3 separate regions of the Homo sapiens genome follow, and all the other regions are linked to region 3. The links come from fine-mapping of genetic effects on gene expression. A gene starts in region 3. Each other region holds a variant in brackets. All regions are shown on one strand. Distances are from middle to middle. Region 1 overlaps NUBPL (NUBP iron-sulfur cluster assembly factor, mitochondrial). Region 2 overlaps NUBPL (NUBP iron-sulfur cluster assembly factor, mitochondrial). Region 3 holds the start of NUBPL (NUBP iron-sulfur cluster assembly factor, mitochondrial).

Region 1 (4,243 bases), 150 kb after region 3:
TCTCCTTCAATGAAAAGAAAGCTTGGACATAACTTATTTCACTCCATTTGCCTTCCCTCTTACAGAAAAGGTCAAGCTGCAGGATAGTATTGTAATTTGTACTTCCCTCAGGTGGCCATTTTTCCCCATCAGAGAGAGAGTATTGGGGTCAGGCTGTAGCACAGAAAAAAAATGTGTCACCTCTTTTTCAGGGTTTATGGGTCAAATTGGTCCCAATGGCTTAGGATGCATTTCAAGGGTGAGCCTGTTGATGCCTGAGTGTTTCCTATCTGAATGACAAAACCGCCCGCAGATTTGGTTTGTTTGTTTCTCCCCCTGCCCAAGAACCTGCAATGGTCCCTGGACCCTGCTGATTGGAATAGTTGCACTCACCGATGCAGCAGCAGAAACAACCCCTGCCCAAGAACCCACAACAATCCCTGGACCCTGCTGATCGGAATAGTTGCGCTCACCAACGCAGCAGCAGAAACACTAGCTTTTCTCCCAGACCACAAGGAGGACTAAGGAAGGTCGGATTTAGTGACCCTTACTGACGCATTCTCGAAAACCTGCACCCTTTCCTGTCCTCCTAGACCACAAGGAGGACAGAGAAAAATCAGATTTAGTGGCTGTTACAGACGCATTCTCGAAAACCTGTTAGAGTCCTAAACATTCTCCTGTTAGTACTGGAACCTTACCCGTGTCCTATAAAGATGTTATGCCCCCAGAATGAAGTGGAGGGCCATACCCTGATGGAGGGAAGGGATCTCCAGGGTTGGAAGAGTGACACCTTTTGTCTTCACTTATATGAATAGGAAGGATACAATTTCTGAGGCTCCCCATATCCTAGCTTCAGGAATAGCTTTTGTTAGGCCTGCTTGTCTGAGGAGGGATCCTAAAATTCCGGATAGTTCCCCCTACAATGGGGCTTTGGGAAAAATTATGTCTTTCTGATTGGTGAGCCTGGGTGCCTAAAGAAGGAAATAGAGTCCTGGAGTTTATACTAGAAATCATTCTTATAGGAGAAACTAGAAAAGCACCAGAGACAGGGAGTGATTTTTAGAAGCAGGACTAACCTCGGAGAAGAGAGGTGAGGGGAAGTTTGTCTGACAGGCATTAGGACCCAGGAGGCAAGGGTCAGGATAGATAGGATAGATGGGTGAGTCTCGCTTGGGCGACATGCCTTTGAGGGTTCCGCTCATGGCCACAGGGTCAACCAACTTGTTGTTCGGACCCCGGAGCTGAATGGCTTTCCTCTCTGTCGACCCTTGGCTCGGCCCAGAAGTACAGGAAAAGTGGAAGCTGGTTCTAGGCAAACCAACGCTCCCAACTCCAAAGAGTCAGGGGATGTTAGAGAGCCCCTTCCCAGAAAGCCTGACACCCGTGTCTTTAGTCTGGTTGCCGCGCTAGTAGCTTTTAACTGGCCGACAGGTGCCCGGTATTTAGCCCCTGAATTCTAAGGAGAAACAGGACAGAATAGCAAGCAAAAGGGGTCCAGTGGTACTCACCGCTCGGCGATAGGTGATAGTCTTACTGCTTGGCAATAGGCGATAGTCTTACTGCTTGGCGATAGGTGATAGTCCCTTCGTGGTTGCAAAAATGTGTCTGGAATTGGTGGGTTCTTGGTCTCGCAGACTTCAAGAATGAAGCCGCAGACCCTCACGGTGAGTGTTACGGTTCTTAAAGATGGTGTGTCCAGAGTTTGGTCCTTCAGATGTTCAGATGTGTCCAGAGTTTCTTCCTTCTGGTGGGTTTTTGGTCTTGCTGACTTCAGGAGTGAAGTTGCAGACCTTCGCGGTGAGTGTTACAGCTCTTAAAGGCAGTGCGTCTGGAGTTGTTCATTCCTTCCGGTGGGTTCATGGTTTCGCTGGCCTCAGGAGTGAAGCTGAAGACCTTCGCGGTGGGTGTTACAGTTCATAAAGATGGCACATCCGGAGTTGTTTGTTCCTCCCGTCTGGAGTTGTTCATCCCTCCCAGTGGGTTCGTGGTCTCGCTGGCTTCAGGAGTGAAGCTGAAGACCTTCGCAGTGAGTGTTAGAGCTCGTAAAGGTGGTGCAGACCCAAAGAATGAGCATCAGCAAGATTTATTGTGAAGAGCAAAAGAACAAAGCTTCCACAGCATGGAAGGGGACCCGGAGCGGGTTGCTGGCTGCTGGCTGGGGTGGCCTGCTTTTATTCCCTTATCTGGCCCCACCCACATCCTACTGATTGGTCCATTTTACAGAGAGCTGATTGGTCCGTTTTGACAGAGCACTGATTGGTGCATTTACAAACTTTTAGCTAGACACAGAGCGCTGATTGGTGCATTTACAAACCTTTAGCTAGACAGAAAAGTTCTCCAGGTCACCACCCAACCCAGAAGCCCAGATGGCTTCACCA[A/G]TGGTACTCGCCGCAGGACTTTGCAGCACCTAGCCCCGGCACTCTGGCAGCCCAGAGGGAGTTCGTCCCCTGATCAAGCCCAGCAGGCACTGGCTGGTTGCGCCCAGTGCGGGGCCTGTGGAGCCGTGCCCACCCAGAACCTGTGCCAGCCTGTGAGTGAGGCACGCAGCCCTGGCTCCCACCCATGCCTCTCCCTTCACACCTCCCTGCGAGCAGAGGGAGCCAGCTCCGGCCTCGGCCAGCCCCAGAGAGGGGCCCCCACAGCACAGTGGCGGGCTGAAGCGCTCCTCGAGTGCAGCCAGAGAGGATGCCGAGGCCAAGGGGGCACCAAGAGTGAGTGAGGGCTGGTAGCATGTTGTCACCTCTCACCAGTGTTACCAAAACATCAGGGGTTTGGTCTGGGTCCTGTGGCTCTCTGCACAGAAAACCAGTCACTGAGAGAATGAGTATTGCCAGGGAAGAAGGCTTTAATCACGTGCAGCAGCTGAGACAATGGGAGATCAGTCTCAAATCCATCTCCTTGACCAACTAAAATTGGGGGTTTATTATAGCAGGGAAGAAATGTAATTATGTGTGGGAAAACAGGAACTAGGGAGGGGTAAGGAAGAGGAACTGGTTAACGAGAAGCAGGTGACCACTTAGGAACATAGGAATTAGGGAGGGGTAAGGGAGCAACCTGATGGATGAAGGGTCTGCCATCTCATTGTCTGGATGTGGTGATCTGGTGAGTTTCAGTTCTTTGATACTTTTTGAGAAGGCTGAGGATCATTTCCTGAGAAAGGAACTTAAATAAGACAAACGTTAGTTTTAAGCTTTAAGACCAGAAGGGTCAATTTCTATATTTATTTTAAAAAACTACTGGGTTGGTTTCACTAGCCTTTTTAGTTTCTTCCCTTTCTCAACTTGAGTGCCCTTGAACTCCACTCTCATGGCACACCAGGAATTTTATCCCCTTGAAGTATTCATCTTAATTACCTTACCATAGTTTTTCGTCTTTGAGTTCTTTTATTAAGGCCATTATATGTCAGATTCCTTGACTGTTTCACTCTTTCTGTACCTTTCATTTTTTTCCTAACATGTTTATATATGGCACATTATGTCACTGGCTTGCTGATAATTTCAGCTCCTTCGTATCTTTCCCTTTCAGTTGTGCCACAAACCCATTGGTACATTCCTTTTACTCTAAACCCATAAACTCCAGTTTAGAATGGATTCAGCATTCGACTTTCTCTATTCTTACGCTTGGGCTGCTGGGTGCTGCTAGAGATGTCCTTTTAAGTGGCATGTGGATGGCACTATGAATTAATGATTTCTAGCCTTGCTCAACAACCCGTAGGAAATTTTTCTTCTATTTTTTTTCTCTCTTGCTTAGAAACCTGTTATTCTAGGCAGCCCTCTCTTTTATTCTCCGTAGGAACTATTTAAAATCTGCTTTGTTATTCTGAAGACCTCTGTCCTTCTACCTCTCCCTTTACTTTTAATGCATGATTCCATTTTCTGTTTCACAAAGAAAATTAAATTTATATGGTGCAAACTTTCTCAATTACCAGCCAGCCTCCTTAAAAATGTATCTGTATCTGAATTCATTCTTGCCCTCTTCCCTTCTGTATCTGGTTCTTAGTCTTTACTAACTCTTTTCCATCAGCATTTAAACATGCATGTGGAAGACAGTACTGATTGGCTATGTAGAAACTATTCCCAGCCCCTGTCTCTTTACTGCTTAAAAGTAGGTCTAGAAAGTCAAAAGATAATCTAGTTGCTCTTAGAGCTGAGTGTGGCCATGTGAACCAGTTCTAACCAATGAGACACAAGGAACAGTCTGTGGAGATAGCCTCTATGTAAGATGTTTTGCTTCCTAATAGAAAGGCAGGTTTTGTTCTTCCTCT
Region 2 (4,243 bases), 71 kb after region 3:
CCTCCATATACCTCTTTCAAAGCCTAAAATATTTATCATCTGCCCCTTTATAGAACAGTTTTCCAGTTTCTGTCGTATGCATTTAAGTTACCTGGAATCAGTTTGGTTATTTTGAGGCTTTTGAGCTTCCTTGGGTGGGTCCAGAGCAGCCTTTAGTGTCAAGGGCTAATTTACCCCTTTACTAAGGCAATATCTTTCTAATGACTCTCTACCCAATGCTCCATGTATTGTGAGATCTTTCCCCTTTGACTGATGGGAACATAAACTGTTCTCAGCTGTGTGCAATCTCTGGGAATTATACAGCTTGTATCTCCAGTGATTCTTTCCCCACCATTGGGTAATTTTTCTCATTCATGTGAAAACTCCACAGGACCCCTCTGCAGTTGTGGGGAGTTCTCTCTCTATGTCTCCTTTCTCCCCAGTATTCTGCTCCATAAATTCCAGCTGCCTTGGCTTCCCCTAACTCTCATTTTCTTTTCTCAACTCACCAAGATGAATGGGCTCTGTTTGGATTCTCCCTCCCTGTTTTTCAGCCTGGAAGCTGTCTCCAGGACAATAAACTGGGGCAGTCATAGAGCTCATCTCACTTGTTTTTCTTTTTTCAGGAGTTATAGTCTTCCCTGCTGTAATTCCATGTCTAAAACATAGTTTTTATGTTTTGTCCAGTTTTCTAGTTTTTTACAGGTGTCTGTGTGTGTGTGGGTTGGGGGGCTACTCAGGGGTTAAGTCCCATTTCTGTTGCTCTTTTATGGCCAGGAGCAAAGCTCCATTTATAGCTGTTACTTTTTTTTCCCTCTATGTATTCTCTACACCACTAAAAAGTCAGATGAATCCATCATCTGTATAATCACGTTTGTTTTTATAGCAATTAAGTGCCATAGCCACTTGTATTAGTATGGGTTCTCCAGGGAAATAGAACCAATAATACACACACACACACCCCCACCCCACCCCCCACACACAAAGAGATTTATTATAAGGAATTGGCTCACATAATTATGGAGGCTAAGTCCCAAGATCTACATTCAGCAAGCTGGAGACCCAGAAGGGCTAATGGTGTAGTTCCAGTATGAATCCAAAGGTCTAAGAACCAGTATAGCCAATGATATAAGTTTTAGGTGCTGTAAATTCCAGTCTGAGTCCAAGTCCACGTCCAAAGGCAGAAAACCGACATCCAAGCTCAAAGATAGGCAGAGAGTGAATTCTCCCTTATTCCACCCCCGTTTTTTTTTCTATTCAGGGCTTCAATGGATTGGATGATGCCCACCCACATGAAGGCGGGCAACCTGAATTACTTAGTTTACCAATTCAAATGTTAATCTCATCCAGAAACATCCTCACAGACACACCCAGAATAATATTTAACCAAATTTATGGGTATACGGTGGCCCAAAGTGACATAAAAATTAATCATCATACTCCTCAAACTCTTAGGGTTGCCCTTCATCTAAGTTGTATAATAATGAATCAGTACCTGTGTTCCCATTTCCTCCCAGCATGGAGATAATCCTGGAGTTTCTAGATTAATCTCAATCTCATTTTGACGGTTGTTTCCTGGGGCTACTTTCCAACCAAAACACATAGCATATTCAGAATAATTTGAGAGGGACTATTTACAAGATGTGGGAGAAGTGTAGGGAAACAACAACAGATAGGATAGTAACTGATGAGCAATACTGGAGCAGTTTACTGTCCCTACACCTGAAGAGTTGGGGGGAAGGAGTATCCAAATCTGAGAGAGAGTCTTGTAGAGATGTCTGCCTTCGGAGGAACAATGACACTTGGTGGAGGACCTAGCCAGCCTGGGGCTACCCTACAGAGAGGAAGCCAGGAAATTAAATTCCTTGACCACCCTCTCCTCCTTCTTTCTGATCTCCTGCTTTTGAGGCAGTCTGTATAGAAACCCCTGGGGCGGCAGCGGGCAGAGTGAACTGGAGGGGCAGTTGGAAATATTTGGCAAAGACAGCTAGGTTGGAGTAGCTGCCTGGCCCCTTTCCTTTAGAAACAGGTGTTTCAAGATACACAAAGTTTGAAATGAGAGAAAAAATAGTTTATAGATTATTATTTTCTTGCCTTTCTAATACTCCCAAAGTAGTCTTCCATGTATGTTCTGAAGAACTGATGAAAGCAAGAAGAAATAATGTTAAATTATCCAGAGTTGTTTAAACTCATCAGCAGATGCTGTTATTTTATTGATAAAGCTGGTGATATTAAAAATTAATCAAGTTTGCCCATTGTAGTAATAGGTCAGGATTTAGATACTCCATAATCCACACTGTATTTTAAGAAAAGTATCCATAGGGAAAGAAGAAAATATTCACGTCCATAAAAGTGGTTTATTTAACATTGAAGCATAGTAGTGGCAAATATTTATATGTTAATCTATATTTTACATATTTCTACTTTTAAATTATTAATAGACATGGATGGGTAATTTTAGGTTTAATTCAGACTTTCTGTAAGTCATTTAGAGGAAGCTCAGTGTGAGG[C/A]ATTCTTTGCTATAAACAGAATGGGTGAACATTTACTGGGTGATATCTGGTAATTAGCAACAAATTTGGAGCATCCAGGAAAGATGCTGCTGCTTTGCATCTTTGGCTGTGTATGCCACTCAGTTTGTGGAAATTCAGTCCTGTTTTTAGGTGCATAGTGCATGGCCTTTGACCTACCTCTCTGCAGCAGTATCTTCAAACCACCTTCACCTCTTGCAACTGGCAGCCGAGGTGGGTTGCATGGTGCAGTGGTGCTGTTACCACACATAACCACAGATTATCACCAAACATATAACGTATTCTAAAAATAAAACACTTTTAAAAAATTTCAGAAACATATTTGAGCATTTTAATAACTGAGTAGAAATTAGTCGTAGTTTTATAACATTTTAGAGCTTGGAGAGATCTTTGCAAGTTTATTTTACTGATGAGATTTAGATACAGTCACATAGCTTATTTAATGATTGAGATTCAGTCACGCGCATTATTAGTGAAGTGCCAACATAAGAACCAGGATCTTCTGATTACCTTCAGTGATTTTATTATGCAAAGCTTTTGCTCGTTGTAGATATTCAGAGTTACAGAATCCACAAATGCATTATAAATAATGGTCTGGCATCAACACTGAGGGAGATTTTGTTGTTCCATGACAGCTCTATTTATTAACTGGTTTTTCCTTATTTTGGTCAAAAACTTGCTTCCTAATAACTTTCACATATTATTCCTAGTCCTGTCCTCATGAGAATCACCTAATTCTTTTTCCTTTGATAACCTCTGAAATATTTGCACACTGTGATGAGCTCAGAAAAACAACTTTAGGTCTTTAGCTTTTTCTTATATAATGCAATTTTCGATATAATTGCCGTTCTGGTTGCCTTTCTAGCCATGGATCACTTTGTCAGTATCCCACCTGCTTAGGGTTCCCAGGTTTGAACGTTGTGTCCAGGCATATTCTGAAGGGATATAGTGAATGCACTTTTAGTCACCCAATATAAAATGGTGGGCAATACAGTAAAAGAAGAAAAGCGACAAAATCAGTTCTTTTTTTTTAATTTAATTTTATTATTATTATACTTTAAGTTTTAGGGTACATGTACACAATGTGCAGGTTAGTTACATATGTATACATGTACCATGTTGAGTTTGCTGCACCCATTAACTCGTCATTTAGCATTAGGTATATCTCCTAATGCTATCCCTCCCCCCACCCCCCACCCCACAACAGTCCCGAGAGTGTGATCTTCCCCTTCCTGTGTCCATGTGTTCTCATTGTTCAATTCCCACCTATGAGTGAGAACATGCGGTGTTTGGTTTTTTGTCCTTGTGATAGTTTACTGAGAATAATGATTTCCAATTTCATCCATGTCCCTACAAAGGACATGAACTCATCATTTTTTATGGCTGCATAGTATTCCATGGTGTACATGTGCCACATTTTCTTAATCCAGTCTATCATTGTTGGACATTTGGGTTGGTTCCAAGTCTTTGCTATTGTGAATAGTGCTGCTATAAACATACGTGTTCATGTGTCTTTATAGCAGCATGATTTATAGTCCTTTGGGTATATACCCAGTAATGGGATGGCTGGGTCAAATGGTATTTCTAGTTCTAGATCCCTGAGGAATCGCCACACTGACTTCCACAATGGTTGAACCAGTTTACAGTCCCACCAACAATGTAAAAGTGTTCCTATTTCTCCACATCCTCTCCAGCACCTGTTGTTTCCTGACTTTTTAATGATTGCCATTCTAACT
Region 3 (4,243 bases):
TTTAACCCAGTAATCATAGTGGTATTTCTAAAACACAAATCTGATGTTACTTTCCTGCTTAAAATCCTTCTATAGTTCCCTTAGGATAAAGTCCAAATTTCTTTACAAGATATATACAGCCTTTCTTGATTTAGGCAACCTCCATCTAACCAACCTTCACTCCATCCTCATCTCTTTTAGTCACTTTGTCCTAAGTTGCACAGATCATTTACAGTTCTTAACAATCCAGAAAAGAAATGTATTTTCTACTCCTCTTGTGTTCTCTCTTCTTTTCTCTCTTCTTTCTTTTTTTATTTTTATTTTTGATATCTTTTTTATTTTTTTATTTTTATTTTTTAGTATTTATTGATCATTCTTGGGTATTTCTCGGAGCGGGGGATTTGGCAGGGTCATAGGACAATAGTGGAGGGAAGGTCAGCAGATAAACATGTGAACAAGGGTCTCTGGTTTTCCTAGGCAGAGGACCCTGCGGCCTTCCGCAGTGTTTGTGTCCCTGGGTACTTGAGATTAGGGAGTGGTGATGACTCTTAACGAGCATGCTGCCTTCAAGCATCTGTTTAACAAAGCACATCTTGCACCGCCCTTAATCCATTTAACCCTGAGTGGACACAGCACATGTTTCAGAGAGCACGGGGTTGGGGGTAAGGTTATAGATTAACAGCATCCCAAGGCAGAATAATTTTTCTTAGTACAGAACAAAATGGAGTCTCCTATGTCTACTTCTTTCTACACAGACACAGTAACAATCTGATCTCTCTTTCCTTTCCCCACATTTCCCCCTTTTCTATTCGACAAAACCGCCATCGTCATCATGGCCCGTTCTCAATGAGCTGTTGGGTACACCTCCTAGACAGGGTGGCGGCTGGGCAGAGGGGCCCCTCACTTCCCAGACGGGGTGGCCGGGCAGAGGTGACTCCACCTCCCGGACGGGGTGGCGGCCGGGCGGGGTCTGCCCCCCACCTCCCTCCGGGACGGGGCGGCTGACCGGATGGGGGCTGCCCCCCACGTCCCTCCCGGACGGGGCAGCTGGCCGGGCGGGGGCTTTTCTCTCTTCTTTCATCTTTCTTCCTTCTACTCTCTTCTTCTTTCTTCTTCCTTCTTCTTTCTTCTCCTTTTAATTTCCTCTTCCTCCTTCCTCCTTCCTTCTTTCTTCTTCTTCTGACAAGGTGTCACTCTGCTGCCCACGCTGGAGTGCAGTGGTGCAATCATAGCTCACTGCATCCTTGAACTCCTGGCTCAAGCAATCCTCTTGCTTTGGCCTCCCAAAGTGTTGGAATTACACGCGTGAGCCACCATGCCTAGCCTTAGCAGTCCATTTCTAACCTCTTTACAACAATCTCCTTGCCATTCTCCCAGCTAACTTCTACACATTATTCAGATTCAGCATTCAGCTTAGATATTACCTAATTTAGAAGCTTCCCCTGATTGAATTGAGTGCCCTTTCTTTGTATCACTTTGTCCTTTCTCCTGTATCCCTCAATGCTTTTCTCCTGTACTTATCATATTATACCGCAATTTTGTTGTTAACTTATTCTGTCTTTTGCACTGGATTATAAAGCCCTTTAGTGGAGGAATTATGTCGGTCTCAATGCTGAATATTTTAAGTCTACTGTAGTACTCGGTACATAGTAGTTGCTCAACGAATATTTGTTAAATAAATGAGTCTTAAGTCTGGAAGAACTTGCAAAGTTCTTTACCAGGTTGCTGGTAAAGCAACCTGACCTTTCTTTCAGGGAACTGTCAGCAACACAAGCCATGAATACCAACGCAAAACAGACTCTCACTGTAGATCACACGGGAAAAAATAAAATAAAAAGGTAAAATCCTTAACGGTGGTAGTATTTAAATGACCATATACTGCTTAGTAAGAAATCCTGGGGTCATTTTCAAGGTCCCCCATTTCCTACTTTTGTTAAGCTGGGTCAAGTCTCTTTAAACTTTCTCCGTTTTCTTGTCCATAAAAAGAGTATACTAGGTAAGTCTTCTGTCTACCTCGGGACTTCTGTAAGTATCATAAGAGATGTTTTATATGACAACACTTCACAAACGTTTAGTAAAACGCTGCAAAATGTTTGTAGCTGGCTATAAACAAGATCATGCAGATTGGGTTCCTGAGCCAACAAACCCAAAGAAGACCGGTTGCTAGGAAGAGAAAGCCGAGCGTTGCTCCGTGACGTCATCACTCCGCGCCACCCGCGACAGTTTCCCAGCAGGGCTCACAGCAGCGTTCCGCGTCATGGGGATTTGGCAGCGTCTGCTGCTTTTTGGTGGGGTGTCGCTCCGGGCTGGTGGCGGGGCCACTGCCCCGCTTGGGGGAAGCCGAGCGATGGTTTGTGGGCGCCAGGTCCGTGGTGCTGCAGGGCAGGGGGAAGCGGGCTGACAGATGCTGGGCTGCAGGGCCGCAGATGCCCTGGCATTGCTTCTTGCCAAAGACTCGCCTCAGTTCCTGAGACCCCCAGTGTGCTGGACGTGCCTACTTTTCAGGCAGGCCCAGGCTGAGGCGTGGCGGGACTTGAAACACAGTTAGAACGTAGATGTGGTATTCTACATTGCTTTCTTGGCTTTGGGTTATTTATCAAATAGATTGAAGAAAAGCAAAACACGTGGAAGCCTTATCTCCGTAAAGAGGCAGCGTTTTTACATTTTTAAACGTTCAGCGTATCCTGCTAGAAAAATTTCAATTTAAGCAATGTGTCTTTACAATTGTTATCAGTAGTAGTAGGTAAATGTCTCCATAGTGAAGATGAGCAGAATTAGAAAAGAAAGCCCTCTTAATTGCAAACCCCAGATTGTTTTTGCTTTTACAGTGTGATGATGGAGATGGCTTATTTAAAACGGCTTTTTATTATTATTATTTTTTAAAGTTGTCTGGCGCCGGGAGTGAGACCCTAAAACAAAGAAGAACACAAATCATGTCCCGAGGACTTCCAAAGCAGAAACCGATAGAAGGTGTTAAACAAGTTATAGTTGTGGCTTCTGGAAAGGGTGGAGTCGGAAAATCTACTACAGCAGGTATTATAGGATATTAATTCTATTCCTGATTAAGAACTTATGCCAACAGACAAGTGCACACTATTGAAATTATAGTTTTGTGTTTTAAAAATTTATTTGTGAAGTTCCTAACATGTGATTCCTTAGTTTCAGGAGTTGGTAGCGGGTAGACGCTTAGATTTTGGAGTTAGACAAAAGTAGGTACTAGCCGGGTCTCCCACCCCTTAACTCAGGAAAAAGTGGTCAGATTGTACAGCAAATCTTCAGTTCACTTAACTGTAAAATGGAGATAACTTCTTTCATAAGATGGTTATTCAAATTGCACAAGCTAACCACTTAGCTTAGTGTTTACTAGTGTTCAATAATTGGTTGCTGTTATTTTTAAAACATCTAGTAACTTTTTTTTTTTGTTTTTTTTTTTTTTTTTGAGACGGAATCTCGCTCTGTCACCCAGGCTGTAGTGCAGTGGCGCAATCTCGGCTCACTGTAAGCTCCGCCTCCCGGGGTTCACGCCATTCTCCTGCCTCAGCCTCCCAAGTAGCTGGGACTACAGGCGCCCACCACCACGCCCGGCTAATTTTTTTTTTGTATTTTTAGTAGAGACGGGGTTTCACCGTGTTAACCAGGATGGTCTCCATCTCCTGATCTCGTGATCCGCCCGCCTAGCCCTCCCAAAGTGCTGGGATTACAGGTGTGAGCCATCGCGCCCTGCCTACTAGCTCATTTTTCCCCATTTTTATCAGAAGGGAATTCTGGAAGAATTTGTCAGATGTTTTGGAAAAGTTAAGATTTACCAAATATTGTATTTGTGGTGGATCACTAATCCATTACTATTTGATAGATACCATATTGTTAAAAAAAATTAATAATCTGTTCTTAATGAATTCATGTGCTCTCCTGCACATTTTTCCTTTCTTTCCTAAAGGTTTACAATCCATCTGGTTGTTTTTAAAATTTAGAAGCTCTTAGTTTTTGGTTCTAGAACCTTTTGGAGTACATTTTTCAGTTTTCAGTGGTTTGAATCCTTTTGCATGCTCTGTGATTACTTGAACTGGATAAGGATGGAAGGTGTTTTCATGATTGTAGCCATAAGTTCTTTGCGTTTTGTAATTTGTTGGGTCTGTAGGCTGGCACTTGTTTAAGATTGTTTGTTTATTATTTTTAGTTGGAAGATGATTGTTGCCATGAAATGTGAAAGCATTTAAACAGGAAAATGTATGAGAAAGTGTACAACATGTGACACGTAATGGGT

The links. PIP is the estimated chance that this variant, and not a neighbour inherited with it, causes the effect.
Region 1: its variant is the best candidate, but not a certain one, in a credible set for the expression of NUBPL in nasal epithelium (TOPMed, PIP 0.59).
Region 2: its variant is the best candidate, but not a certain one, in a credible set for the expression of NUBPL in fibroblasts (GTEx, PIP 0.70).

The regions. Positions count from the first base shown.
Region 1 is chr14:31,709,965-31,714,207 of GRCh38, forward strand. All of the region lies in intron 6 of NUBPL (NUBP iron-sulfur cluster assembly factor, mitochondrial), which reads left to right. Among named protein-coding and RNA genes, the nearest start is that of NUBPL, 150 kb to the left of the region's middle. RefSeq lists an enhancer at 1-490. The variant A/G (reference allele first, on the strand shown) is at 2,358.
Region 2 is chr14:31,630,544-31,634,786 of GRCh38, forward strand. The region is part of intron 4 of NUBPL (NUBP iron-sulfur cluster assembly factor, mitochondrial); the gene reads left to right. Among named protein-coding and RNA genes, the nearest start is that of NUBPL, 71 kb to the left of the region's middle. The variant C/A (reference allele first, on the strand shown) is at 2,490.
Region 3 is chr14:31,559,204-31,563,446 of GRCh38, forward strand. NUBPL (NUBP iron-sulfur cluster assembly factor, mitochondrial) reads left to right here and starts at 2,201. Exons shown (of 11, transcript NM_025152.3): 1 at 2,201-2,344; 2 at 2,865-3,012. The coding sequence starts at 2,237. It overlaps NUBPL-DT (NUBPL divergent transcript), which reads right to left and starts at 2,128. Exons shown (of 3, transcript XR_943720.2): 1 at 1,908-2,128. RefSeq lists enhancers at 2,044-2,443, 2,370-2,925.